Regions from separate parts of the Homo sapiens genome. Here all the other regions are reported to be linked to region 5. Evidence: microRNA targets listed by miRTarBase, many of them from high-throughput screens and not tested one by one. Region 5 holds a microRNA gene; each other region holds the end of a gene's coding sequence.
The links. Region 5 holds the annotated microRNA hsa-miR-423-3p (AGCUCGGUCUGAGGCCCCUCAGU, at 833-855, shown strand). A microRNA usually pairs through its seed, bases 2 to 8, with sites in the 3' UTR of a target mRNA and lowers its output. Matches are read on the target gene's strand: a 7mer-m8 pairs with bases 2 to 8, a 7mer-A1 pairs with bases 2 to 7 and ends in A, and an 8mer does both.

Region 1 (4,431 bases), not on the chromosome of region 5:
TCCAGCCTCATCCACACCCGCCAGGGGCTCCTCCTTGGGATCTTGGGGTGGGCCAAGGCGGTACCAGTTGCACAGACGGCCCGGGCCTTGTCAGCGGGGAGCCCGGTGCTTTGGTGGCTTGTTTTTCCCTGTCTTTAATAGGAATCAAGTGTGATATCATGAATTGATGGGGGGAAGATTAAGAAGGCTTTGTAAGACTATAAGTTAGTTTGCTGTGAAGAGTGTGCTTATTAAATGCTTTCTGCAACACGAAGACTGCAGCCCTTGACTTTGAAATCATCTGTTTTTAGAATCTTGAAAGAATTGAAATTAGTTTTCTGGCTGATTCCCTTCCCTTCCTTCCTAGAAAAGACAACTGGCAGTGCAGAGTTTAGCATTTAATTTGAAAGATAAAGTCTTTTGTGAATTATTTCCTGAAGTCGTGGAGGTAAGAAAGACGGAAGTGGGTTTCGCCTTCCCCTGCGTTAAAACACTTGAGTTTCACCTCTTTCCAAAGAGTAAAATCTGTGTCCTGAAGCTGCAGACCTCCCCAGGGGATGGCTCCTCTCCCCCAGGAGCCCCGAGGCAGGGGAGGCAGAAAGCCTGGGCTCTGGGGGGTGGCCTGCGGACAGCTGTGCTGGTGGGCCGGGGGCTGGGCCTGTCCCACAGGGGCGTGGAGCTCGTGGTTCTGAGCAGCCAGCTGGGTGGTGTCTGGGGATAGCTGGGAGGCACAGCGGCTGCCATGTGGGACTGGGACTGGAGTGCTCCCTGGTCTTGGCCTCTGTGGCTCAGCCTTGCTCTGGTCTGCCTGAGTGCAGGGGCCAAGGGGCACAGGGCCAGTGAGGCCGGCCACGCTCGGGCCCTCACCTGTGAGATGGGGTCGGAATTTGACACAGCCTAGGGCTTGGTTCTTGGTGGTGGACCGTGGACTCCTGAGAACGGGAGTGCTGGTCCTGAAAGGCGCTGGTTGGAGACCAGCTGCTTTTCTCGCTGTTTTTCTCTTAGGAGATTAAACAAAAACAGAAAGCACAAGACGAACTCAGTAGCAGACCCCAGACTCTCCCCTTGCCAGACGTGGTTCCAGACGGGGAGACGCACCTCGTCCAGAACGGGATTCAGCTGCTCAACGGGCATGCGCCGGGGGCCGTCCCAAACCTCGCAGGGCTCCAGCAGGCCAACCGGCACCACGGACTCCTGGGTGGCGCCCTGGCGAACTTGTTTGTGATAGTTGGGTTTGCAGCCTTTGCTTACACGGTCAAGTACGTGCTGAGGAGCATCGCGCAGGAGTGAGGCCCAGGCGCCGAGACCCAAGGCGCCACTGAGGGCACCGCGCACCAGAGCGTGACCTCGGCAGGCTGGACACACTGCCCAGCACAGGCAGACCCACCAGGCTCCTAGGTTTAGCTTTTAAAAACCTGAAAGGGGAAGCAAAAACCAAAATGTGTGACTGGGCTTTGGAGGAGACTGGAGCCTCAGCCCTGTCCTGGCCACGGGCCGCTGGGGCTGGTGTGGGTGGGCCTTGTGTGCTGGATTTGTAGCTTATCTTCCGTGTTGTCTTTGGACCTGTTTTAGTAAACCCGTTTTTCATTTTATTAGATGTGGTCACTTAGAAATGCAAACTTGCTGCCGACCGCGGGCTGCTCCTGCGTTCTTGGAGCTCCTGGCGCGTTTCTCGGAGCTCCCGGCTCCTCAGCGGGTGGGAACCTCGGGGCCCAGGGGTGGAGCTGGCGTCCGCGGGTGCTGGTCTGGCCTGGCCGTGTGGTGATGAGGCTTAGCGGGGCCAGTGACGGCCGTGGCTCAGGATCCATAAGTCGGGGTTTGGTCTCAGCATTTACAAATGTGTTTACAGTCAGAATGAAACACATTCCTTCTAGAAAGTGCTTGGGGGTTTTTGCTGCCCTGGAAGCCAGGAGCCTGCTCACTCCAACCACAAGTCGCCCTTGACTGCGGCGGCCGCGAGCGGGGCGGGGGCTGCCGGTGCCCTCCGCAGGCCGGGCCTCCTGGGCGCCCCTCGGTGCTGCAGGCTGGGGGGCCTTGGGTACCTGCAGAGCCTTTTCTCTGAATTCCTTATGTCCGGTGGGCCAGAAGCCCGTCCTCCTATGCTGGTGGAAGGCGGAGGACCGGAGTCCCTGCAGAAGGCCCCGTGCACTCGGGGGCCTCCCTCACATCCCGTGCCCCCTGCGCTGGCCTTCACAGTAGGTAATGGCTCCGGCCCGGGTGTTCGCTGTCCACGGAACATGGCAGAGGGGCACCCCGGCCCGGAAAGACGCCAGAGCCAGCAGGGGCTGTTTCGGGCCGCGTGGCTCCCCGGGTCTCGGCCGTCTCCCCTCTTCTGCGTCTGTTCCGTGACTTCGCCTGGGTGGGATGTACCGCAGGTGCATCGCGTCGAGGTGGGGCACGGCCGCCGGCAAGAAACCCACCCTGTCCGGAGGCGGGCGTGAGACAAGCCCAGCCCGCACGCGCTCATCTTTCTTCGTTTTTTGATCAGTTTATTCAGAATTGCTCTATAATTTACCAATTGTATGTATTTAACCTATTCTTGTGGAAAAAAAAGGTCTTTCATTATATCTTTATTTCTGAATTTCATGCTGCTTGTGTCTGTGTGGGCCGGGATGTGTGTCCATCTCTGTGCTCAGGGCTGGGGTGGCCCGTGACCAGGGGGTCACACCTGCTGGCCTGGGGTGGTGTGGCAGCTGCAGGGCAGGTGGGTCCCCACAGGGAATCGCGTCGCTGGAGCCATGGTGTAGAGCCCTCTGCAGGGCTCTCTCCCCATCCCGTACTGGATGCCAGCCCTGCCCTGATCTCCGCTTCTGTGACCGCCAGCATCACTTCCAAAGCCCGGTGTCTCCCGAGGCTCATGGGAGGGGGAATGCTAACGAATAGAGTGTTTACTCAACACGCTACTGCCGGGTGCAGTGGCTGCCGCCTATAATCCCAGCACTTTGGGAGGCTGAGGGGTGGATCTCTTGAACCCAGCCTGGGCAATGTAGTGAGACCCCATCTCACAAAAAATACAAAACACTACCTGGTGTGGTGATGTGCACCTTTGGTCCCAGCTACTCAGGAGGCTGAGGTGGGAGGATTGCCTGAGCCCGGCAGGTGGAGGCTACAGTGAGCCATGATGGAGCCACCGCAATCCAGCCTGGGCAGCGAAGCCAGACCCTGTCTCAAATGTCGTCTAGATGTGAAATCTCAACTTTGTTTTTTTGTTTTTTGGAGACAAAGTCTTGCTCTGTTGTTGCCCAGTGTGGAGTGCAATGGTGCTATCATGGCTCCCTGTAACTGCAGGGTCCAGCCCTACTGGGCCTGTGGGTTCTTCTTGTGTACGGAGAGATGTGAGATCATAGAAATAAAGACACAAGACAGGGATAGAAGAAAAGACAGCTGGGCCCGGGGGACCACTACCACCTAGATGTGGAGGCCGGTAGTGGCCCCGAATGCCTGGCTGCGCTGTTATTTATTGGATACAAGGCAAGGGGGCAGGGTAAGGAGCGTGAGCCATCTCTAATGATAGGTAAGGTCACGTGTGTCTCGTGTCCACTGGACAGGGGGCCCTTCCCTGTTTGGCAGCCGAGGCGGAGAGAGAGAGAGGACAGCTTACACCATTCTTTCTTCTATGTATTTCAAAGACTTTTAGTACTTTCACTCATTGTGCTACTGCTATCTAGAAGGCGGAGCCCGGTGTACAGGGCGGACCACGAAAGCAGACCAGGAGTGTGACCGCTGAAGCACAGCATCACGGGGAGACGGGCCTCTGGATGGCTGCGGGTGGGCCTGACTGATGTCGCCTTGCACAAGAGATGGTGGAGCAGAGTCTTCTCTAACTCCCCCGGGGAAAAGGAGACTCCCTTTCCCCGTCTGCTAAGTAACTGGTGCCTTGCCAGGCGCTAGCGCTACCGCTAGACCAGGGACCCCTCTGGTGGCCCTGTCCGGGCGTGACAGAGGGCTCACACTCTTGTCTCCTGGTCACTTCTCACTATGTCCCCTCAGCTCCTATCTCTGTATGGCCTGGTTTTTCCTAGGTTATAGTTGTAGAACAGAGATTATTATAATATTGGAATGAAGAGTAATGCTAGAAACTAATGATTAAGAATATTCATATATCATCACATCTATAATCTATTTCTAGTGTAACTATTCTTATTGTGTATATTTTCTTTATTACACTGGAACAGCTCATGCCCTCGGTCTCTTGCCTCGGCACCTGGGTGGCTTGCCGCCCACATGTAACGGTGACCTCCTGGGCTCAAGGGATCCTCCAAACTCAGCCCCCTACATATCTGGGACCGCAAGTGTGCGCCACCATGCCTGGCTAATTTTTGTATTTTTTGTAGAGATGGAGTTTCGTCATGTTGCGCAGGCTGGTCTTGAACTCCTGAGCTCAAGGGATCCACCTGCCTCGGCCTCCCAAAGTGTTAGGATCACAGGCGTGAGCCACCGCGCCCGACTAAA
Region 2 (4,352 bases), not on the chromosome of region 5:
CCTGCTGGAATGAACTAAAGCAGATGTCAAGCAGGGGCTGGTGGGGGTGCCTACTCCCTTTTCCACTCTATCTTTAGATTTCAAACCTTAGGCTTACAGCCCCTCAATATCTCTCTGCTAACACCAGTGTCTCTTTCTAGTTAGGCCTCTAATCTTCTGTTTCTGTTTACCAGCTTCCCAGCAACTTTCCTTTTTTAAAATATTAAAAATTTAATTCAGGTTCTCTTAATTATCCTCATCCTGCTGTTGCCTCCGCCCTTAACTCTATCCCTATTAGGAACCTTGTTTCCCACCGAATAAGAGTTAAGGTAAGAGGTAGCTCTTCACCTGATGACATTCCATTTAAGTTTTGGGGCATCTTTCCTGCCCTCTGCCAACCTCCCTGCTGGCCCAGGTGAGAGGAGGAAGAGGGGTCTGGAAAGAAACCCAGAATGCGGCAGAACTAGGAGTAAGTCCATCTCAAGGTGGACTTCTGATCATTGAGGATGGTGAGATAAATAGGTTGAAAACAATCATCTGTGAGTTTAGGAGTCTTAAGATCCTCACAGCACGGGAGCAGGGAGAGGCTCTAGAACAAGGTTTCACAACCGAGATGCCTTTGACATTTTGGGCTGAAGTGTTCTTTGTAAGGAAAACCTGTTTCCTATTTTGTGCATTACAGGATATTTAGCAGCAACCCTGGCCCACTCTAGTTATGACAACCAAAAATGTCTCTATACATTGCCAGATTTCTCCTAGGGGGCAAAATCGCCTCCATTTGAGAACCACAACTCTAAAGTCAAGATATTTTTCTCTGAAGTGATTTCTGCTTGGCACGCTACCCTCATCATCTTACTCATCTTAAGCCCGAGCCATGGATCAACTAGGAGCCCATATAAATGAGGCTCAGTAGGGCTGCACATAATCTCCAAACAATTCTTTATTCAGTGTTTTGCTTGTGTTTGCATGTTGCTATGATGGACAGGTCCCCCTCCTCCATTCTTGCCCTCTGGAGAAGTGGTTCCTGCAGTGTAGAGATATGAACAGGGTATGGTAGGATTGGGGAAAGGGGAGAGAGAAGCAGTAGATACACTCCTTATCCTCCCCAAATTTTAAGCTCTATTTCTGTGCCCTAGTCCTAGACACACATTAGACTCAGGGAGTTTTGTCTGAAGACCAGGTCCCACTGCCCCCTGGCTGAAGAGTCTGCTTTAAATGGGAAAACAACGTAGGAGCAGGGGTTTTTAGGCACTTTCAGTATTCTCAGGTGTTCTTCGTTCTGGCCCTTCCAGGGTAATTAGGAAGGCAGAACAAGACAGATGAGCTCCTGCCTGCTCTGAGACAAGAAGGGTGGGGTCTCATTAGCTTTGCAACAGGAAACATCCTGTTTTATGGTAGTGGGGTCAGGAATGTAGGAACTGGTATCCATTCTGCCAATTCCACCACCCATTCAGTTTGCTTATCCCTACAGAACAGTGACTGAGGTTCTTTTTTTTTTTTTTTTTTTTTTTTTTTCAAATTTCCATGTATTTTCTGCCATTTTTCAGGGTCTAAGATTGGTCATACATTCCCAATTTACTCTCAGTTCCAGTCAAGCTGGTTGCTCTGAAAGTAACCCAGCTTGTTGCTCTAAAATACCTCAGTAGCCTGAGTGTTATACTAGAGATCTAAAGGGTTAACAGGATAGGGTGGAAAGGTTAGAGACTCCTAGAAATCTCTGGTCACCGTGATCTTCGGCCTCATTCTAATACCTGTTCTTTGGACAGTCTTTTTCCTTTGGTGCTCTCTTGCCTTTAGCTACCTTCTCTAATATGTATGCTACCATCACTAATAAAGTGATGGGAATGGGTTTGAGAGTCGTAATTTATATTAAAAAGTTGTTGGACTTTTAAATACATTTTTTCAAATAAAAAATTAAGCAAAATAGTTGCACAGTAATCATTGCAGGTGTGTGTTGGATTAAAGGATGGATATAGCTAATGAAGATAACTCCTCGAAAGTGGCTGAGATGGAATTTTGTACCAACATTGCCCTTTTGAGGAGAGAGGGCCAAGCATGAAGGCAAGAAGACCACTGTCATCTTTCAAGGGCTCAACTCCTTGTTCTTCCTACTCCCTTTTCTTAGCGTTTATTTGAGATTTTTCAAGCCTGTAAAAGAAGTACTTGTTTTAAAACAATGTTGGAAATGAGGAAAATGAGCAATATCAACATTTTATCCTGAGGGACAGGGAGTAGAAAACAAGCCAGAGGCTGCTAGTTACATAGTTCAGTCTTAGGGATGAAGGGATTTATGTCTCTCCTCCCTCAGGTACCTCTGTAAAGAAACACAAGACCAAACAATGTGTTTTCCAGTTTTGTTTTTCTGTACTAAAAATATCTAGTGGGTGCTAGGATTGAAAGGGCAAGAGAGGTTGAGATACTGACATCTCCTCATGTGGATGAAGTGGCCATTACCTCTGGTTTCTGTCTATCTGCGTAAGAAAAAAAAATAGAGAAAAAGGGAAATTACAACCACATCTATATTCTTTTCCCTTCCTTGCTTCATCTCCCCCTCCCACAAACCCATATTCCCTCAACCCTACTGCCCACCCCTTACTTATTTTTGTATGCAATAATGGTATTGGACACACAAGGAGAAAAACAGAAACAAGCAAAATGACCAAGTGTAAGCTTTATTACCTTTCCCTCCTCAAAGTCCTATCATCCGTATCAATTGAGACTACCTTATCAAGTCAATCAGAACCTTTGCTAATTCTGGGAAAAGCAGAGGACTATCCTTCCTTGTCCTGGAAGGACAGTACTCCCAAATGGTAGTGGTGAAGAGAGTGGGCACTGGTGTCAAACCTGGTTTAAATCTCGTGGCTCTGCCACTTACTAGCTTTGTAAACCTCAGTTTCTTCATCTGAAAAGCAGGGATAATAATACCTCATAGGATGTGAGGATCGATTCAGGTAAAGTGCACATAGTAAGACCTCAAATTTTGGCACTTGTTGCTGTTAAGCTGTATTAGGTCAAAACTATTAATTGATTAAGATCCTTCATATCTGTTAATTATCTGTGCATCAAAAAGACTTTATGGGCCGGGCACAGTGGCTCATGTCTGTAATCCCAGAATTCTGGAAGGCCAAGGTGGGCAGATCCTTGAGCTCAGGAGTTGGAGACCAGCCTGGGCAACATAGCGAGATCTTGTTAGCCAGGCATGGTGGTGCACGTCTGTAGTCCCAGCTATTCAGCAGGCTAAGGTGGGAGGATTGCTTGAGCCCAGAAGATGGAGGGTGCAGTGAGTTGTGACTGCGCCACCACACTCCAGCCTGAGTGATGAGAGACCCTGTCTCGAAAAAAAAGTCTTATGGTCAGGGGCACAGTAGCTCATGCCTGTAATCCCAGCACTTTGGAAGGCTGAGGCAGGAGAATTGCTTGAGCCCAGGAGTTTAAGACCAGCCTGGGCAACATAGCGAGATCTTGTCTGTGAAAAAAACAGAGAATTTCCAAGACCAGGCATGGTGGCTCATGCCTATAATCCCAGCACTTTGGGAGGCCGAGGCGGGTGGATCACTTGAGGTCAGGAGTTCTAGACCAGCCTGGCCAACATGGTAAAATGCTGTCTCTTCTAAAAAAAAAAAAAAAATTAGCCGGGCATGGTGGTGGGTGCCTGTAATCCCAGCTACTCAAGAGGCTGAGGCAGGAGAATTGTTTGAACCTGGGAGGCAGAGGTTGCAGTGAGCCAGGATCACGCCATTGCACTCCAGCCTCGGCAATAAGAGTGAAACTCTTGTCTTGAAAAAAAAAAATATTTCCAATCTTAACTATTTGGTCAATAATCACCTAATGAGCAGTAAGACATTTTACCTAATGACCAACCAGTAGTTGCTCAATAAATAATAGGTGGAATCAATGGCTAACAATGTGAATAACCAATGCATGTTATGAATCAATAACCAGGTAAGTCAGTAACAGTTCATGTAAGCAACACTGGCTGGCTTAGCAACTGGGTTTTAGATACCAGGACTTTTCAGATCCGTCAACAAAGACCCTGGCTCATCACCAAACACTTACTGGTTGCATCTCTGTGAACACTGAAGAGAGGCTATTCCAAATATCCTCCAGGCCAATCCTGACCCGTTTCCAAAAAGCCAGGGCTGGGCAGGGGCTGGCGGGTGGCAGGCTGGGACTGCTTCTGAGGTGGATGGTGGGGAAGGGGGTAGTGGTGGTCCTGGTACTGGTGGTGCTCTGAGAGGCACAGTTGGTGTCAGTACAGAGACTTGTGTCCAGGGGGCACTCTTCCCGAAGTCGGTTGCAGGGACATTGTTGATAGGTGCAAGGCTTGTGCTCCGTGCGGAGCTGGCTCAGCGCCCCAACTCGAAGGCGCCCGG
Region 3 (4,431 bases), not on the chromosome of region 5:
TCTATATCTATAAAGGTTTCTTCAAATCCACTCTTGAGTCCACTTACTTGTCTAGTCCTGCAGGCTCAGGCATCCAGGCTGGTCTCCATCTGTGCCTTGGAGAGGGCTCAAGAGAGCAAACCCCAGACCTGGAGGGTGGGAAGGCTTTTAAATTACTTCCTCCTCTGTGGGTTCTGCTCGGAGCCAATGTTCCTGGCCCAGATGTCTTGCGCTTATCGTCATCTGCCCCATGAACTGTAGATTAGTCCATTGCAGGTGGATGCACATATGCACAATCTTCTCCACGAACCTGCTGTAAGCTATTCTGGCTTTCAGTCTCAGCTTCCCTTAGGCATGTGTTTAAGGACTGCAAACTCATTTTGATCTTTGCCTGGGCCAAATATAACGAGGAAGGTAAATCTGTAAAGCATTAGCAAAGCATTGCCAACTCAGAAACAGAAATGATTTTTAGAAGGTCTGCCAGTTTAGAAGCAGCCACTCGTTGGCTTCTCTCCACTGCTCACCAAACCGTTCTGGCCCTATATCTAGCCTTCTCCACCCAGCGTATCCATAGCTTTCCTCGGCTAAAACCACCAACCTCCATTAATCTGCTGAACAGAAAATGCCTAGTCTATTACACGGTGAGCTGCTCAGACAGGAACAATGTTGTCTTCTTCCTGAGTAAACCGCAGTGCAGAGAAGGCCATCTCACACACAGCAGGCATCACACTTGTGGTAAGGGTGGAGGGTGGTGTGGGAGGGTCCTTGGCACGCCCACCTGGGCCCCTCAGCCCAATCCTTTACATCCGTGAAGAGCAACAGGAAAAGACAAGCACCTTTTTTTTTTTCTAAGAAGTTGCTGTATTTAATGCTTCCCCTCCCACCATCCCACACCCTCTCCTACCCAAGACATTTCTCTAGGGAGTAGGGGCCTTGCCCGGCCCTTCCTCTTAAGGCAGATGGTGTGGAGGTAACATCAAACGCAAGGCACTGGCCCAGGGCGCAGGGGTGTGGGCAGGGCAGGAGGCTGGGCTGGCTCCTAGTCATTGGAAGTGAAGCAGGTGGGCAGTTTGGGCTGGTTCCAGCCTTCCAGTGCAATGCCCGAGGACGAGAGTGGTCCCAGAAAGAAACTGGCAGCCCCACTGGCCAACTGCAGCCCTAGCCTATGCCCCACCATCCTTCTCCAGGGGCCAGTCGGCCTCAGCAGGGACCAGAAAAAGCCACAGCCCAGGGAGCAGGTATGGCCTTCCTAAGCCACAATCTCAAAAGTCTCTGTCCTTCATGATTCCTTAAAGGGAGGCAGGGATTCTCCCCGACCCCCCAGAAGGTTCTCCACGGGCTCCATTCTCCCATGTGCCAAACTCGTGCTCTCGGGGAATGCAGAGCCCACTAGGCAGACCCTGCAGCTCCAGTGCCGTGGTTTGGACCGTCACAGCCTGGAGCGCGGGCTCAGTGGCCTGGTCTTCTGGGCCCCGCCGCACCTCCCCCAGCCCTGTGCTCACCTCCCTAAACAGACTCTGGAGTTCAAGATCCAGTGTCCAATGCACCATGGGTGAATTCACAGCAGTGGTGGAGGCAGCAGCAGCAACAGAAAAACCCCCAGCCACAAAAGCACCGGGGTTATTAGTGCAAGAGAAGTACAAGGTCTCCAGGTGACAGAAAGGGTGGCATCGACTAAAAAGGCTAAGGGCTATTTTCCCTGAAACTGCCCCCCTCTTCAGTTCCTCCTGCCCCCACTCCTCTCCCTGCCTCCAGGGGATATCTCAGGGCAATGTCCTCACCTCCCCAAACCTCTCATCCCGCCCCCTTCTTATCCTGCTCCCTGTCCAGGGTTTTGCCCCCGTACACCCTTTCCTCTTCTTCCACTCAAGGCCGGGTGGCCAGGGCTCTCCCTGCAGAAGGGCAGGTCTGCAGTGGAGCTGGACTGTGAGGCTCACAGCTTCCACTTCCCTTTTCGTCCCTTTCTGTCCAGCCCCCACCCGCTTCTTGCCTAAGGAAATTGACAGATATGTCCACATCCTCTTTACCTCTTCTCCATGTCCTCTCGGGAGGCCTTACCCACAGGCACGCCGGTAAGGGAAAGGGCTTCTCTCCCCTGCCTTCATCACCCTGCCTGTTCTGCAGGCCTCAATGTCCAGTGCCAGGGAGTGGCAAGCCCCCTGCCCGCCAGCTCCCCACCTCCCAATGCCCAAGCACCAGAAACAGCCCGTTCTGTGCTTCTGGTCTGACGTGAGCCATCCGGAGGAAGTTAATGCCCTAATCAGTGGCCAGCTGTTTGGTGGCTACTGGGAGATGTGTGTCTCTGGAAGGCACGAGCCTGGGGTGGAGCAGAGACCTGCCCCACGTGGGACCAGTCCCGCGGCCAGGGACAACGCCCAAGGGACATAGGAGTGGGCGGGAGGCCTGCACGTGGGGACAGTCCCTCAGTGCACAACCTCACCCCCGCTCTGGACAGCAGTTTCGGTTTTCTGTTTTTAAAATCCCCGCCCCCCAATAAAATATGTCCACTAGAAGAGGGTCTGGTGGTCAGCGCTTGGCGTGAGGAGCGCTTGGGGGATGTGGGCGTGCACCTTCATGGATGAGGATGGTGTCGCTCAGTCAGATCTCTCCTTCCTGACCCGTCCTTCTCAGGAGCTCTTCCCGTTCTCGACTGAGCAAGTGGTCCCTCCTGGCCTCTCTCTCAAAGTCCTCCCTTCTGAAGGCCCAGGAGGCAGAGACAGGAGCCCCGGAACCTGCCTCTGTGAGGGGACAGCTCCAGGTGGAGTGGGCCGTCAGCTTCGAGGCCTCTTGGGGTCCAGCCGTCACCCCACTCCCCATCCCTGAACAGTAGCAGGGCCCTGGGGAGCCACTGCTAGTCCAGAGCGGGGAGTGCTGGGCCCCGCGGACACCCTCCGGCTACAGCGTCTTCATCTGGCGACGGCTCCACATGCCTCGCTTGGAATGGAAATGATGGAAGAAATTCCTGAGGGAGAGACGCTCCACGTCCAGGCCCGCTTGGAGTATCCTGGAGGAGGAGAAACACAGATGAGCCAACAGAAGCACAGAAGGCAGCTGGGGGGCCCCTCCCCATCGACCACAGACCCTCTGTTCGCTCCCCACGGGGCAGGGAAGGCAGGTGCAGTGGACGGCTGTGGGCTTTGAAGCCAGGCAGCCTGGGTTTGGATCCCAGCTGCATGACTGGGTATGTCACGCCTTCTTTCAGAGCCTGTCTGCTCATCTCTAGGAGGACGATTATCACATACGTGTAATGAGAGGATAATGTGTGATATAGAATTCTATCTATCTAATATTAGAGTAGACATACTATATACACATCAGAGGTGGGGAAGACGAGAAGGATGGATGCTGAGGGCTCAGCACGGCTCCTGGCACACTCTGAGTGCCCCATAACTGGCGCCCAGCCTCCAGGGCACACGTCATAGACGGAGGAAGGCAGGGCTGCTGCACTGAGACACCTGGCGCCTAGGCCCTCCCCAGGCCTTTTGTGCATGTGCAGCCTGCAGGGTGTCCCTCTCACAGGGAGGCTGCACTTCTGGCAGGGCTGAGAGTGGCCGAACTGGATGCCTGAGCCTCCGAGGAGGCAGGAGGTTCAGGGCTGTACAGGAGCCGTGCATGGCAGCAAAAGCCCAGCACAGAGATCAAGGTGGAGGTGACTGCTGGACCCGGCTTCCCAAATCAAGGCTTCCAGCTGCCCTGGGGGCTCCTTTGATCTCAGACCCTTTTTATGAGCTCCCAGTTATCTACGTTCCTTTACCTTCCCCCTTTTCACTCGAATTCTCTTAGTGTGTCACCTTCCTTTTCTTTCTTCCCTCAACGGGAAAAAACACCAATAGACCTAGTTTTCAAGCCTCTAACGCTTAAGTGAGTGAGATTTGGGGCAAGTTATTAACTTCTCTTCAAGACTCAGTCTTCTCATCTGGAAAATGGAGATCATGATGCCGACCTCACTGAGGTCTGGGGAGAAATAAACGAGGTAACGGATGTGGATGGCCGGCCATGTATAGGGACCCAGTGACTGGTGGATGCATTTTGTCCTGCCTCTCGGGAAGAAGTGAGCGTGTCTTCGTGTCGAGGTCCCGCCCCCAGTGCTCCTGACCTTGCCCTGTCCACCTCCTGTGGACGCTGTTACAGCGCTTATGCCCTTCTGAAGGGTACCCTCCCCTCTCCTTTGCTCCCTCACCATAGGCTCAGATCTCAAGGCACCATCCTCTCTCTGCCCCTTCTCTTGGCAGCACATTTCTTGAAAGAGGAACCTCACACGGAACAGCCTCCGCCTCCTCACCACCCATGGCCTGGTGTCCCTGCCCAATCTTGCTCTCCTTGTCCACCTGCCAAGGCAGCAGCTTGTACTGTGTTCTTCTCTGAGGCTTTTCATCTCATTGACCCTTTCCTCCTGCTCCAAACCCCCAGGTCCCTTGGTGTCTCATGACCCGGCACCTCCTGGATGTCCTC
Region 4 (4,431 bases), not on the chromosome of region 5:
AAGCGATTCCCCTGCCTCAGCCTCCCAAGTAGCTGGGATTATAGGCACGCACCACCACGCCTGGCTAATTTTTTTGTATTTTAGTAGAGACGGGGTTTCACCATGTTGGCTAAGATGGTCTCATCTCCTGACCTTGTGATCCACTTGCCTCGGCCTCCCAGAGTGCTGGGATTTCAGGTGTGAGCCACCATGCTTGGCCTAAACAGACTTAACTTTTAGACACTGACAAAACTGAAGGCATCTTTCTGACCAATCACCTACTCAGGATCCCTCCCCCAATGTTTTACCAGTATATTCTGATAAAAGTTCTAGAGTCCGTGAAAGAAACTAAGGATAAAAGAAAGTCCGTGTCAAGTTGTACATTATACAGATGCCTATAAATTTTATTCATTTCCTAAGCTTACATCAAATTCACAACTTTCTTTTTTTTTTGAGACAGTCTCGCTCTGCCACCCAGGCTGGAGTGCAGTGGCACGGTCTCAGTTCACTGCAACCTCCACCTCCTGGGTTCAAGTGATTTTCCTGCCTCAGCCTCCTGAGTAGCTGGGACTACAGGAGCATGCCACCACGGCCAGCTAGTTTTTGTATTTTTAGTAGAAACGGGGTTTCACCATCTTGGCCAGGCTGGTCTTGAACTCCTGACCTTGTGATCCACGTGCCTCAGCCTCTCAAAGTGCTGGGATTACAGGCGTGAACCACCGCGCCTGGCCCACAAGTAACTATTGTTGCTTTTTCTAATTTTCTAGGATTTTATTTTTTTAAATTTCTTTTTAGTAGAGATGGGGGGTCGGGTCTTGCTATTTTGCCCAGGCTGGAGTAGTGGCACGATCTTGGCTCACTGCAACTCTGCCTCCTGGGTTCAAACAATACTCCTGCCTCAGCCTGCTAAGTAGCTGGGATTACAGGCATAAGCCATCACACCCAGCCTTGAGGATTTTCTTATACTGTGTTTGAATCCACATGACTGATAATATGCTTAATGTTTGAGAAATTATAACCTTGCAATTGAGGTTAATGATCTACTAACTACCTTTGTGTTGATCAGATTGTGTACAATCTGGAAAAGACAACGACTAATCCAAAGAAATGAAACTACAGAATTTCAGGCATTGTAATTATACCTGTAAGAAGTTAACCTAGCAGAGAAAACGTTTAACTATCCCTCCCATCACCATCACCATTCATTCTATTTGACAAACAGGAGGCATCCAAATATTTGCTAGGGGAAAGTCATCCCTGATCATCCATAAATCACACTGTAACAATCTCTTCTCAACAAAGCCTGCAGTAACTAAACCTCAGAAGTTCACTGTTATAAACTTTTTCTTTCAACTTTACAGGGGCTGTTTAGAAATATATGGCCAAATCTGTAACCCGGAAACAGCAAAAAACTTCTTAGCAAAGGATCACTAAGTACCCTTTGGATGTACTCTTCCAACCAGACAAGAGTGCCAGAAACTTGGCAAGCAATTCATCCTGTGGAAGTTGCAAATACTGGCTGACCTGCTTAAAAAGATTCTAGAGTTGGCCGGAGGCAGAACATGTCAACTCTTTGCTGGATTCTATTTCATCTGCTGTTGATACTGATCTCAATGCACCAAGGAAAGGAAAGATGAGCCTCCTGTCTTCCAGCAACAACCCTCACATATGCACTGAGTGAAGGATGAATGTATGGACACATCTGGGAGTATTTTAAAGAATGTATCTTGCCTTGTGTTGACCCAAACCAAAAACATTTTTGAGGGGCACATGTGGGGTCAAAAAGATAGCCAATTTCCATTACATGGGTTTACAATTTCCATTCTTTTGTGCCACGAGTGTTAGAATTTAAATGAATACTTTTACAAAGTCTACTTTTTGTTCAAGGATATGCTGACCCATATAGTTTACTCTTAAAATTGTGTCAAGGTATTTCTCACTATACTCTAAAACAACTAGACTTGAAAAGAAACCATTTGAGATTTGAATCTAATGGTTAACGCTATTCAGATTTTCCCAAAGATCTTACCTCATGAAAGTAGTTCTGGGTCAGAATGATCTACTCAGTTAAAAAACAACAACAACAAAAAACTAAGCGATTGGGAAAAAACAGGAATTTTATCTGGTTATTGCATCTGGTGATAGAGGCCTTCAAAGCCTATTATTTCTAACCTAAGTAAAGGCCCCAGTGAAAAACATACTGGGGAAATAAAACCTCTGAGAAAAGGTTCAAGCACCTTTTCCAAATTTAAATCTTGCCTTAAATTCTCTCTACCACACTGCCTTTGACACTCTTGGAAGTCCATGTAGTTCTCTACAGATAGACTTCAAAGAAACGTTACCTTATCAAAGACTAATCTGTGCCACCTCTGATTCAGTGTTTTATGTCTTTCACTTTCCCTGGGAAGGAGTAAAGTTCTTTTCTACAGCTCTGGGACTATTACATTTAATTCTGCTCTTGATAGTCAAAGACCATGGACAACAACTGTCATCTGAAGGACTCTTCTAGAAGCCAGAGACTGGTGTTTGATGGATGTTTTATACTAAATAAAACCCATCAGCATGGGGTTATGTAGAAAAGCAATTTATTCCATTTTAAGCACTTACACAGTTAGTCATGGAGAGTAACAGGCCTGCTGGTGAAACAGGTCACCCAAAATGGAGATGGCATCAAACTAGTGGTCAAGGACTAACTCCTAAAAAAAAAAAGCAACTCTTATCAAGGATTAATTTAATTTTTAAAACAAATACAAGTTATTGATTCACTCTTCTCAACTTGACAGTCTACCTGTGGTATAACTGTCAGGTAAAAACATACATCTTTACAACTTGGTGGTCCCAAGTTAAAAAAAAAAAAAAAAAAACCAACAACAAAAAAAAAAACACCATTTCACAGACAGGAAATAAACAACATGAAAACAGCTCAAGAAATACACTAACGAGCAAAAATATATGAATATATGGGGAAAGAGGAACGTGTTGTTTTGACTTAACTGAAGAAACCAAGAGGAAACTGGTCTACGTATGAAAATGTGCATCCTGGAAAGTCAGGTGTCAAGATTTTCGAGTAGGAATCTATATGACTTGAATCTCCCCCTATTTCCTGAATAAAAGTGACATCTTTCAGTATTTATACTTCATGGCTCAGACACCTACCTCATTTGGCTCTATTCCTTACTCACTCTAGCCTTTACTTAAATGAGTCTGAAAAACTTGGGGATATAGCATAAGAAGAAAAATAATCACACATAATATTCCCCTTTCTGTAGCTACTTTAGACCTGGGTTACTAGAAAATTCCTGAAGAAAATTTCAACGTTAAGTCTGTGGCTTTGTTGAATCAAGCCCCCCTATTAATATTTAGAAAACACCCACGGTTTGGGCTAATAGCATTATCGGTGGTACCTATTATATAGAGGGATAGCTGAATAAAGTCTGTCTCAAAACCAGTGTTAAATCACTCTCAGGGTTGAGAAGAAAAAAGGGGAGTCTAAAATCACAACAAGTAAAGACATATCTAGGACCCTTGTCCTTCTGGATCCACGCTTCCTTCAGGGTCTTCATCATTATAAATGTTCTCTGCCTGCCCAAAAACAAGAAAAAGAATTTAAACATGAAGACTTCTTCTAAAACTCAAGGTTTCAACAACAGATTAGGCCAGGAAGCCAGAGAGTAAATACTTTATAGCTTTTGGGCCACACAATCTGTGTTACAACTATTCAACTCTTGGATGAAAGTATCCGGAGACAACCTATAATGGGTAATGAAATATTAATTAGCATGATCATGTTCCAATAAAAATAAGCAGCTGATCCCCAGACGCCTGATTAGGACATTCCCACAAAACTGCAGTGTGGATACTATTTGTCTTGATAGCCAACATTCTTGAGTTCTTTAACCAGGCATTATTATTTTTCTTTCCTTTTGAGATGGAGCCTTGCTCTGTCTCCCAGGCTGGAGTGCAGTGGCACCATCTCGGCTCACTGCAACCTATGCCTCCCAGGTTCAAGCAATTCTCCTGCCTCAGCCTCCAGAGTAGCTAGGATTACAGGCACATGCCACTACGCCTGGCTAATTTTTGTATTTTTAATAGAGATGGGGTTTCACCATGTTGGCCAGGCTGGTCTCGAACTCCTGATCTCAGGTGATCTGCCCACCTCGGCCTCTCAAAGTGCTAGGATTATAGGAGTAAGCCATTGTGCCCAGCCTAACCAGACATTATTAATAATAGCCAAAAAGTAAAAACAACCCAAATATCCATCAACTACTAAAATGGATACACGGTATATCCAATCCATATGATGGAATATTATTTGGCATAAAAAAGCCAGTCAGGCCAGGTGTGGTGGCTCATACCTGTAATCCCAGCACTTGGGAGGCTGAGGCAGACAGATCACTTGAGGTCATGAGTTTGAGACTAGCCTGACCAACAAGGCGAAACTGCATCTCTACT
Region 5 (3,000 bases):
AAAAAAATTTTTTTTTTAATAATAATTTTGGTCCTATGTAAGGTATTATTAATACACAGATTTTCATTTTTCGCCTAATTATCCTGAACCAGTTAAAGTGAACACTTGGAAGGGGGTAGGGGGAATATCGATAGCCATGGCAGTGGTTTTCAAACTTTATCAGAATTACCCGCTGGTTAAAATTCAGATAACTCGCTTCACTCCAAAGTTTCTGATTCTGCAGGTTTGGGGTAGGGCCCGAGAATTTGTCATTTTAACAGTATCTCCGGTGTTGCTGATGCCGCTGGTCCCAGAACCACACACTGCGAACAACTGGCCTAGAACGTTGTCATTCCTTTCTCCTACAGATTTTGAGGCAGCCGGTGGGCTCCGAAACAAAACAGAGGTCACTGGATCCGATTCCCAGTACCATAGAAGTGACTCAAACCAGCGATTCAACCGACAAGCAGGATCCGGGCCACCCAAAGCCGCGCGAGAGTTTACGTGACGACATCGGCGTCAGCGTCACGGAGGCGTCGGCCACGTTCAGCGGACACGGGAGCAAGATGGCGATTCCGGGCAGGCAGTGAGTGATCCGGGAGTTAGGGTCAGGCTGGGGGATGAGAAACTACGGCGACTGTATCTTTGGCCGAGGAGTTTTAAATGCGCTGGAAGTGAAGGGACTGTGTCGTCAAGGGTAGAGACGGGAAAAAACGAGAAGTCCTGAGGAACATAGATTCCCCTCCCCCGTACATTTTCCCGGATGGAAGCCCGAAGTTTGAGGGAGAAACTTGTGAGGAAATAAAGGAAGTTAGGCTGAGGGGCAGAGAGCGAGACTTTTCTATTTTCCAAAAGCTCGGTCTGAGGCCCCTCAGTCTTGCTTCCTAACCCGCGCTTGAGTTTCTCCCCGCTTGGATGCTCTCAGGGGCAGTGTGAAGAGAGACAGTTCCTGGCTTCCTTAGAGGGCCTTGTTCTCCTTGGCAGAAGCTCAAGTCCTGATTCCCGCCCTTCCTTCTCGTTTTAGGAATATTGTTCTGAGAAGCCACAGAAAAAGGGTAGGCATATAGGAAATTGGGGTATACGTTGCCGCAAAAGAGACAAATACTGTACGTACTTGAAAGTTTTACCTTTGATGTGTAATCCTTACTTTTGATGCGGCCTCCCGTGATCTCCGCATCTTAAAGGCCAAAACGTGAGAAACTAAAGGAGTTGGATCTGATGGGATGGTTCTCTCAGATGCTCCGAGGCAAAGCACATGATCTTAATAAAGTGTAATGCGAACTTGCCCCATGGCTACTTGGGTTTCTCAGTTATCTTTTAAAAATTTTCGTGAGTTACACTATCCAGTCAGTTCTTAGAAACTGTGTAAGTACACAGTAGGAAAAAAAATCTAGCCATTTTCTTGACTGTTTAGACCACAAGGATAGTTGAAAGCATTTTAAAATCTTTAGTGGACATGAACTAAACTTTCCACTACACATGTTTTTTTTTTTTTTTTTTAAATGTTACTGTCACTTCGCCATCTTAAAACATTTCTGAACTTTTCATTTACTTCTCTTCTTTGATAAAAATGGTATTCGAGTTTGGCCCGTGTCCACAAATGATCACTTAGAGTAGTAATTATAGAATCTTACGGCATGTTAGAATTTTGAGATCACTGAGAAGCAAAAACAGTCTGTTACGTGTTCATAAAGCTTATGACATGTTTTGATTTGGTAGCTTCATGTGGAAGAGGTAGTAGATGTATTTGTTAACATTTAAACATAAAGGTTTAATTTCTATTTCAAAAAAAATATATGCAGGTATGGGCTTATTTTGCCAAAGAAAACACAGCAGTTGCACCCTGTTTTGCAAAAACCATCAGTGTTTGGGAATGATTCTGATGATGATGATGAGGTAAGGAAACCTATGTTTTACTCGTGCATGGTTGGAAATGTAAATTTTTTAAAAATTGAACTTGTGACTCTGATACCTTTGCCTTTGTTATTTGTCAGTACAGTGGAGTATAATTTACAGAATTGTCAAAAAGGAAGGTGTAAAGAAAGCAGCTCCACCGATTTTTTAAAGATTTTTTTCCCTCTAAAAGCTGCAAACTTTACCTTTAAACAAATACACGGTCTTTTCAGACTACTGAAATTGTCATAACAAAATTGTTGGTGTAAAGATCCCTAGGTATGAGTTATTAAGATGTCACCAATTTTCTACAAATTTTTATTAGCAAAGCAGTTTTTAATTTGTTAACCATGAGCTAAGATCACTATATAACAGTTCTTAACAACGCTACTTTTTTTTTAAATTCAGTGTCTGCCAAATGTAATTGCTCAGTTATAATCGTGGTAGTGAATAGTTACTCTTGATAGTACTACAGTAACATCTAATATCAACATTTTCTATTTTAGCAGCCAAAACTACTTCTGTGAAACCCACAGTTATATATCAGAAACAATCCCAAATGTGTGCTTTTCTTTTCTCTTTTTTTTTTTTTTTTTGAAACAGTGTCTTGCTCAGTTGCCCAGGCTGGAGTGCAATGCCGCGATCTCGGCTCACTGCAACCTCCGCCTCCTGGGTTCAAGCGATTCTCTTGCCTAATCTTCCTGAGTAGCTGGGATTACAGGCACCTGCCATCATGACCAGCTAATTTTTGTATTTTTGTAGAGACAGGGTCTCACCATGTTGGCCGGGCTAGTCTTGAACTCCTGACCTCAGGTGATCTGCCTGCCTCAGCTTCCCAAAGTGCTGGGATTACAGGCGTAAGCCACCGCACCCAGTAAATATGTGCTTTTCCAATACTCCCATCATGTTTTAATATTTTTTTTTCTTTTTTTTTTTGAGACAGAGTTTCGCTCTTGTTACCTAGGCTAGAGTGGGATGGTGCAGTCTTGGCTCACTGCAACCCCTGCCTCCCAGGTTCAAGTGATTCTCCTGCTTCAATCTCCTGAGTAGCTGGGGTTACAGGTGCCTGCCACCATGCCTGGCTAATTTTTATTTTTTTATTTTTTTGTATTTTTAGTATTTTTAATA
Region 6 (3,000 bases), not on the chromosome of region 5:
CACATTAGTATTTGTAAGGATGTATAAGAAACTTCTAGTTTCCTGAGAGGGGAACTGGGAAGCTGGGGAGAGATGAAGGATCACTTTCGTGTCATTTATAAATCTTACTCATTGAAAACAATCGACTTCCCGATGCAATGTAGTATCCCAGAACAGAAAAAGGGCCTTAGTGGGGAAACTGGTGAAAGCAGAGAAAAGTCTAGTTGGTAGTGTTGTACCAATGTTACATTTCTTGTTTTGGCAAATGTACGAAATGTAGTTTTCGTGGTTGTTTCCCAGTTCATAATTCTGTCCTATACATTTCTTCTCCCTCCTCTGTGTGGAACTCACACAGAAAACCTTGAACATCTTCCATTGTTTCCTGTGCCTAGCATGCCTCTCCTGCTCTTCCTGACCTCGGAAGCTGTGCTCCTCTTTCAAGGCCAAGCTCTGAAAGAGTTACTTGCTCTGGAAAGCTTTCCTAGACCTCCCCCTCAAGTGTTCTCCTGGGACATTCTATCTTTATTAGTGCTAGGGACACATGGCTTTGTTTGATTTCTACCAACTAGGTTGCCCAGAAAGTGGACTCCAAGATGAAAACTAGATGCACGTTTTTTAGGGATTAACACTTGTGGAAGAGGAGGAATGCAAGGCTGGGACGGGGGAGGAGGTGGGCTGCGTGATGTAATCCTAACAAAAGCCTCAGCAGACCCCACAAGCTCAGAAGCCACCATGTCCCTCAAAGTTGTCCCAAATTGGGGTAAGAGAAATAGCGACCTGAGATTTCCAGCCCATTACTCACTAGATGTAGGCTACCCAGGGAAAAGGGCATGACTTTGGCTAACGCAGCTCTCCTCTGAAAAGGCACTGCCCAGAGGGCTAACCAGCTGAAGGGTGTTTGTCAGCAACACTTCTAGCAGCTGAGGCAGAAAGGCTTCAATCTGGAAGGAGGGTGGGGTATCACATCTCCTCTATGTCATCCCTCACCCTGCAACTGTAATCGCTATATTCCCAGTGCAAGGCCTAGAAAACAATGTTCCAATTGGAAAGACTGAAGGTGCTTTGGCTCTCTGAAGGCAGAGGCCTGGACCACAGGATTACATGTGGTTTCTTCCCACACTAAGAACCAAGTGTGTTTCTTCCTCACCCGGTTCCCAACAGCAGAGAGAGAAAGCTTCCCTTTGATTAGAGACTAAGAGCCTCAGAAACCGTTAAGATGTTCACCCTCCATTTGACAGTGAGAACCATCTGGGAGACAGCAGATTTCATTCTTAAAGGACTAACATTTCTCAATAACCTTTTAGGTCTTTCGTCTTTTCAAGCAAATGAATACTTTTATTAACATGGTAAGTTTTTGTTTGTTTTAACATGGTAGGGTTCTGACCTCAAATATTTGTTAGGTCTGCTACTCAAATGAACTTACAGCTGGACAACGTATGAACCTTGAAGATGCCTCTTCTAGTCCAGTTTAGGGTCCAATGCAGACAGTTCCATACTGTCATCCCCAAGCCCCTCAAGGGCCTTTGCCAATCTTTCATTTTATGCCAAGTCCTCTAAAACGCATCAGGGTATTACATCAACTTGTACAGAATATCAAGATCTTATCTTCTATTTTAGGTTCCATGTCAAATAAAGCTGAGTTAGGTTGTCCAAACAAACTCACCAGACAGGTTACATAAGATAGTGTACCACAACAAATTTAAATTTTGAACAAAACACATCTCTCCTCCTTTGGTCTCACACAGAAATTAAAGTCTCCAAATACAGACAATACTATCCATTCTCCAGCTCTTCTCCAGATTCACGAGTCCCAGCCAGGTCGGCCCATCCACACTCCCCGTTGAAGTCTGGTCCTTTCTTCAGTAGTTGCTGCATGGAGTCGTCTTCCAGAATTAATGCAGCTCCTTCAGCACCTCCAGAGCTGGAGAACTCCAACTGTGAGTCTCATGTGTCACACACAGACCCAAAGTTCCAGGGAGCTATCAGGTCACACAAGAAATAGCAAAGCACCTCAAAAATTTAGAAATAACCACCAAAGCCCGGGAACAAATGTGACTGCTGCAAGAGCTTACAATCTAGGCCCTAATTCCTGTATGTGAGAGCATTTTCAAACAAAATTACTTCCCAAACAAAAACACGTTAACAATCGAAACTCATATTGAGGTCATCAACCACAGACCATAGCAGAAAACGTAGTGTTAAGTGAGACAGAGCATAGACAGGAAAAAAGAGAAAACAAAAGGCTCTCTGGTTTCGGCTTCTCCAGGGTGTCAGCCAATCTCCACCAGTTGACCAGAATCCATTGGCTGGAAACCTAAAGCACAATGGGAAGAAATTCATCATCGAGAGGTTAATCCCAGGCACAACGACCCCCAAACCCTCACGAACGCCACTGTGCAGGACGCCACCTCTTCTGGCCACCACCTGACTCACTCCAGTCTCTAGCAACGTTGACTTGTCCAACGTCTTCCCCGAAAATCCTCTATTTCCACCCCCGCTTGCTGGACGGCCCGGGACCTTGTCCGTTTCTGTTTCCTTGGCGACTCTGAGATTTATGACCCTTCCACTGAACACGCATCACGCCCAAACCCGGCCACTCTGATTATCCCACGCCGCCACCGTCAAAAAACAAAACACGAAGACGGGGCCCAGATCGGCCCTGACCCGAGCACGCCTTTATTCTCCCGCCCCACCCCCGATTCCGGTGCATCTCGATGAAATCATCGCTCTCGAAGAGCGGCCAAGCTGGGGCCGCTCCTCGGCCTGGCGCGGGTGCCCGACTTACCGCCGACCGCGCTCACGACGACTCGCTCTTCTCTATCCGCCGGACCAGCTCCACCAGCATCTCTGCCATCTTCGCAATCTCCTTGGCCTTCTCCTCGGCCTTCTCGCACCTCTTGGCCGCCCGGCCCTCGGCCGCGTCGCCCGGGTTCTGGAGGTGGTTGAGGGCGCTCTCCTCCGAGGCCTCCACCTGCGTTTTGATCTGGATGAGCATATTGTCCATCTCCCACAGCTTGCTCC
Region 7 (4,294 bases), not on the chromosome of region 5:
AGACTGGACTCTAGAACTCTGGGACTCTGACAGCCAAAGAGCTGGTAAACTGGCTGAGGTCCCAGGGGAGAGCTCTCCCTCAGAGGGGCTGGGGCAGGGCTCTCCTCCAATTTTAGATTAGTTCTGACCAGCCCCATTCTCTGGAGGAAAACTTCAACATGGAAGCATCTCCTGAACTGGTACAACTCTGCTGAGGTCTCCCTGAGGCCTGGCCTAACCCAAAGTGCAGCATCGGCAGAGTGCTGCTCTGCCAGTTGAGAGGGGTGTGGTGGGGCACGGGAGCTGGATTTTGTAACGCTCTGGGGTCTGAGTTCAGGTTGCCCAAGCCCCACTGGCCAAAAGCAAAGTGGTGATGTTGTCAAAGCCTACTCACCTGCCACATCCTAATCTCAGCTCCTCTCTCTCCCACCCTCATCCACCTCCCATAACATGCTTTAGTCCCACCCTACTGTCAGTTATTCCTGCAAAGAATACAACTTACAGCCGGGCGCGGTGGCTCACACCTGCAATCCCAGCACTTTGGGAGGCCGAGGTGGGTGGATCACGAGGTCAGGAGATTGAGACCATCCTGGCTAACACGGTGAAACCCCATCTCTACTAAAAATACAAAAAAAAAAAAAAATTAGCTGGGCATGGTGGCGGGTGCCTGTAGTCCCAGCTACTCAGGAGGCTGAGGCAGGAGAATGGCGTGAACCTGGGAGGTGGAGATTGCAGTGAGCCGAGATCGTGCCACTGCATTCCAGCCTGGGCGACAGAGTGAGACTCCTTCTCAAAAAAAAAAAAAAAAAAAAAAAAAAAATACAACTTATGAGGGACCTCTTCACCAAAGTACCTACATTTTAATGGAACACTCTGTAAGGCCCAGAGGAATGACTCCAAAGCTATATATACATACATACATATATATATATATATATATATATATATATATATATATATATATATATATATATATATATTCTAAAGCAGTCTTCCCTCTGGCACCCCCTCTTCAAAGCACCCCATCTATAGATACTGCCAGGGCCATCTATCTTGTTAAGTCTCAATTTCCCCAGCAATAAAAATGAGCAGCCAAATCAGGTCATTTTCCAGGTCCCTTCCAACTTTGATGTATGAGGTCTTAGACTTGAGATTCCACAGCCTCCCATTCTGAGAGTGCGGAGCTGGCCAGCCCTTGTTAGGAGGCAGCTCGTCTGTGGTTTGGCACTACTGCCCAGCAGGCATTTATTAAATCAGTGTGATATGGTCCCTGCTGGCCTGGAAAAAGAACATTAAGCTCCAAAAACTTCATGCAGCAGGCCTCCTTCAGAGAATGCTGCTCAGAGGGTGAGGAACAAAACCATTCAGGCCCCTGGCTGTGCTCCAAGATCCTGTTCACTAGTACTTTTGCCCTGTCTGCATGGAGAACTGGGGACTAAAAACATCTGGAAGTCTGCTTAAGACCTGGGCGAGTTGTCTTTTCTTCCTTTGGGGGTGGCTGTTCTTGACCCTGGTAATCCAGGCTGACCTCTGCCAATGCCCCTTCACTTCCAATCTTCTGCACTTCATTGGGCAACAACTTTCTAATAAAATCCACATGAATCCAGCTGCTAACAGCTCCTGGAAGGGCTGTGGGATCTAACACCTGCTCCTGCATTCCTTGAGCCCTAGTAGCAAAGGAAAACAGGGCTGAGACCCAGCTCTTGCACCTCTGAGTCTTACAGTGGAGTTGTGGACAAAAAGAGTAGATAGGAAGGCTGGGCGTGGTGGCTCATGCCTGTAATCCCAGCACTTTGGGAGGCCGAGGCAGGCAGATCACCTGAGGTCGGGAGTTTGAGACTAGCCTGACCAACATGGAGAAATCCTGTTCCTAGTAAAAATACAAAACTAGCTGGGCATGTTGGGGGCACATGCCTATAATCCCAGCTACTCGGGAGGTTGAGGCAGGAGAATCACTTGAACCTGGGAGGCAGAGGTTGCGGTGAGCCGAGATGGTGCCATTGCACTCCAGCCTGGGCAACAAGAGCGAAACTCTGTCTCAAAAAAAAAAAAAAAAAAAAGTAGATAGGAAGAGAGAAACATTAATGATGAGGTTTTGCTGAGGGTGGGGAAGGCAGCTGCAGGTGAGGAATGCACAGGTGTAATGATGTGACTGCTGGGTGGCCCAGCAGATTCCTTTGGGTCTGGGCTTGCCTCATTCCCAGTGACCTTAGTCATGTTAACAAGGCTTATCACTCTGGGAGGCAGGCCTGGTCTGAGAGGACAGAGTACACGTGTCACTGACCTGGGGGTCCAGGGTTGCCTGTCCCTCCTCTCTCTGTTGTGACTTGGGGAGTCTAAAATTCTTTCTGTCTCTATTTATTTATTTATTTGAAGTGGAGTCTTGCTCTGTTGCCCAGGCTGGAGTGCAGTGGTGTGATCTCAGCTCACTGAAACCTCTGCCTCCCGGGTTCAAGTGATTCTTCTGCCTCAGCCTCCTGAGTAGTTGGGACTACAGGCATGAGCCACCATTTTTGCATTTTTGCTAATTTTTGCATTTTTAATAGAGACGGGGTTTCACCATGTTGGCCAGGCTGGTCTTGAGGTCCTGACTTCAGGTGATCCACCTGCCTTGGCCTCCCAAAGTGCTGGGATTACAGGCGTGAGCCACTGCGCCCAGCCTATTTATTTATTTTTGAGACAGTCTCACTCTTGCCTAGGCTGGAGTGCAATGGCACCATCTCAGCTCACCACAACCTCCACCTCCCAGGTTCAAGCAATTCTGCTGCCTCAGCCTCCCAAGAAGCTGGGATTACAGGTGTGCACCACCATGCCCAGCTAATGTTTGTGTTTTTAGTAGAGATGGGGTTTCACCATGTTGGCCATAATGGTCTTAAACTCCTGACCTCAGTTATCCACCCACCTCAGCCTCTCAAACTGCTGAGATTATAGGCATGAGCCACCACGCCTAGCCAGTCTCTAATTATTTAAGGTAATACTTTCATTTTTTGAGACAGTCTCGCTTTGTCGCCCAGGCTGGAGTGCAGTGGCACGATCCCAGCTCACGGCAACCTTCATTTTCCAGGTTCAAGTGATTCTCTTGCCTCAGCCTCTCGAGTAGCTGGAATTACAGGTGTGTGCCACCACCCCCAGGTAATTTTTGTATTTTTAGTAGAGACAGGGTTTCACCATGTTGCCCATGCTGGTCTCAAACTCTTGACCTCAAGTGATCTGCTCACCTAGGCCTCAAGTGCTGGGATTACAGGTGTGAGCCACCGTGCCTGGCCCTATTTAAGGTAATATTTACTGAGTACTTACAACATATGTGCCTGCTGCTGGTGAAAGATATATTAGTGAGTAGGACAGACCCAATTCCTGCACTCCAGTCCCACTCACTTGGAAATCCTGACTATGGGTCACAAAGTCTCAGGGCCCCTGGTGGGGGTGGGGTGGGTGTGCTTGGCATTCCAGAGGCGAGAGAGCCATCCTGCCAGTGCTGGGTCTCTTCCATTTGGATCCCTAGCTCTTAAGTTCTCTGGGGATACTGTATGGACACAGAGTTCCCTCTGGTTAAGGTCAGAACTCTGATTCACTTCAGCTTTCTTCTCTCCACCAATGCCAAGAGTCCAAGAAATAAACACAACAGGTTAGAAGGACAACCTTGAGCTGCTTGAGGTTTATTTATAAAGTACAAGGTACACTTACTGGGCCTGGCCTTTTTAATTTTTACTCTTTTGCCTTCCTTTCCACCCAGCCAAGATTTTTGCTTGCTCTCACCTGGGAGTTGAGCCGATTTCACAAATCTGCTCTTGGCTGTCATGAGCCAAATACCAGCACAACCTTCCCTGGACCTGAGGGTGGCTTCATCTTAGAAGGCCCACAAGGATCCTGCTGAAGCAAATGACTCTGCTCCAGTCAGCTCAGGCCTCTATGGAGCAAAGAAACTGGTGTCCTTCTTGGAGCGCTGCCTTCATCTCCTTGAACTGAGCCAACTGGCAGGCCTCCTCCAGCCCCAGCCAGCGGTAGGCTTGGTGCTCATGGGAGAGGCGGATCTCCACGTCATAGTCCTTCACCTCCGCCAGCCAGTAAATGACTGTTTTAGGCTTGTTCCTGGCCACATAATTGAGTTCCCTTTTGAACCCCTCAATAATGGTCAGCTGGCCTGCTTCTATGCCTGCTTCCTCTTGGGTCTCCCTCAGGGCTGTTTCCAAGTCATCCTCTCCTGGTTCCACATGGCCTAGTTAGGAGAAAAGAGGAAGAAAAGGAGGAGGAAATCTTCCAAAGTTCCCAAAGCTGGATTTTCCAGACAAGATTTTTTTTTTTTTCTGTTTTGCTT

Region 1: the mRNA of UBE2J2 is a reported target of hsa-miR-423-3p. The part of its 3' UTR that is shown has no 7-base or 8-base seed match.
Region 2: miRTarBase lists C1orf56 as a target of hsa-miR-423-3p. The part of its 3' UTR that is shown has no 7-base or 8-base seed match.
Region 3: the mRNA of B4GALNT3 is a reported target of hsa-miR-423-3p. The part of its 3' UTR that is shown has no 7-base or 8-base seed match.
Region 4: miRTarBase lists RBBP4 as a target of hsa-miR-423-3p. The part of its 3' UTR that is shown has no 7-base or 8-base seed match.
Region 6: miRTarBase lists MRFAP1 as a target of hsa-miR-423-3p. The part of its 3' UTR that is shown has no 7-base or 8-base seed match.
Region 7: miRTarBase lists NUDT2 as a target of hsa-miR-423-3p. The part of its 3' UTR that is shown has no 7-base or 8-base seed match.

The regions. Positions count from the first base shown.
Region 1 is chr1:1,252,041-1,256,471 of GRCh38, reverse strand. It overlaps UBE2J2 (ubiquitin conjugating enzyme E2 J2), which reads left to right. Exons shown (of 7, transcript NM_058167.3): 6 at 347-427; 7 at 985-2,560. The coding sequence ends at 1,269. Among named protein-coding and RNA genes, the nearest start is that of C1QTNF12, 7.5 kb to the right of the region's middle.
Region 2 is chr1:151,048,536-151,052,887 of GRCh38, reverse strand. It overlaps C1orf56 (chromosome 1 open reading frame 56), which reads right to left. Exons shown (of 2, transcript NM_017860.5): 1 at 4,036-4,352; 2 at 1,468-2,450. The coding sequence ends at 2,430. It overlaps CDC42SE1 (CDC42 small effector 1), which reads left to right. Exons shown (of 5, transcript NM_020239.4): 5 at 1-1,903. Among named protein-coding and RNA genes, the nearest start is that of C1orf56, 3.0 kb to the right of the region's middle. RefSeq lists an enhancer at 4,240-4,352.
Region 3 is chr12:559,895-564,325 of GRCh38, reverse strand. B4GALNT3 (beta-1,4-N-acetyl-galactosaminyltransferase 3) reads right to left here. Exons shown (of 20, transcript NM_173593.4): 20 at 817-2,983. The coding sequence ends at 2,875. It overlaps NINJ2 (ninjurin 2), which reads left to right. Exons shown (of 4, transcript NM_016533.6): 4 at 1-30. Among named protein-coding and RNA genes, the nearest start is that of NINJ2-AS1, 69 kb to the left of the region's middle. RefSeq lists an enhancer at 1,076-1,577.
Region 4 is chr1:32,678,770-32,683,200 of GRCh38, reverse strand. It overlaps RBBP4 (RB binding protein 4, chromatin remodeling factor), which reads right to left. Exons shown (of 12, transcript NM_005610.3): 12 at 1-3,561. The coding sequence ends at 3,496. It overlaps SYNC (syncoilin, intermediate filament protein), which reads left to right. Exons shown (of 5, transcript NM_030786.3): 5 at 1,341-3,295. The coding sequence ends at 1,351. Among named protein-coding and RNA genes, the nearest start is that of SYNC, 22 kb to the left of the region's middle.
Region 5 is chr17:30,116,299-30,119,298 of GRCh38, forward strand. It overlaps MIR423 (microRNA 423), which reads left to right and starts at 781; the gene lies at 781-874. NSRP1 (nuclear speckle splicing regulatory protein 1) reads left to right here and starts at 518. Exons shown (of 7, transcript NM_032141.4): 1 at 518-565; 2 at 1,782-1,875. The coding sequence starts at 546. It overlaps MIR3184 (microRNA 3184), which reads right to left and starts at 862; the gene lies at 788-862. RefSeq lists enhancers at 29-1,228, 261-380, 401-500, 531-630 and silencers at 343-944, 881-950.
Region 6 is chr4:6,641,023-6,644,022 of GRCh38, reverse strand. MRFAP1 (Morf4 family associated protein 1) reads right to left here. Exons shown (of 2, transcript NM_033296.3): 1 at 2,765-3,000; 2 at 1,294-2,293. The coding sequence ends at 2,777. Among named protein-coding and RNA genes, the nearest start is that of MRFAP1, 1.8 kb to the right of the region's middle. RefSeq lists a silencer at 2,301-2,370.
Region 7 is chr9:34,343,025-34,347,318 of GRCh38, reverse strand. It overlaps NUDT2 (nudix hydrolase 2), which reads right to left. Exons shown (of 5, transcript NM_001161.5): 5 at 3,620-4,195. The coding sequence ends at 3,879. Among named protein-coding and RNA genes, the nearest start is that of NUDT2, 16 kb to the right of the region's middle.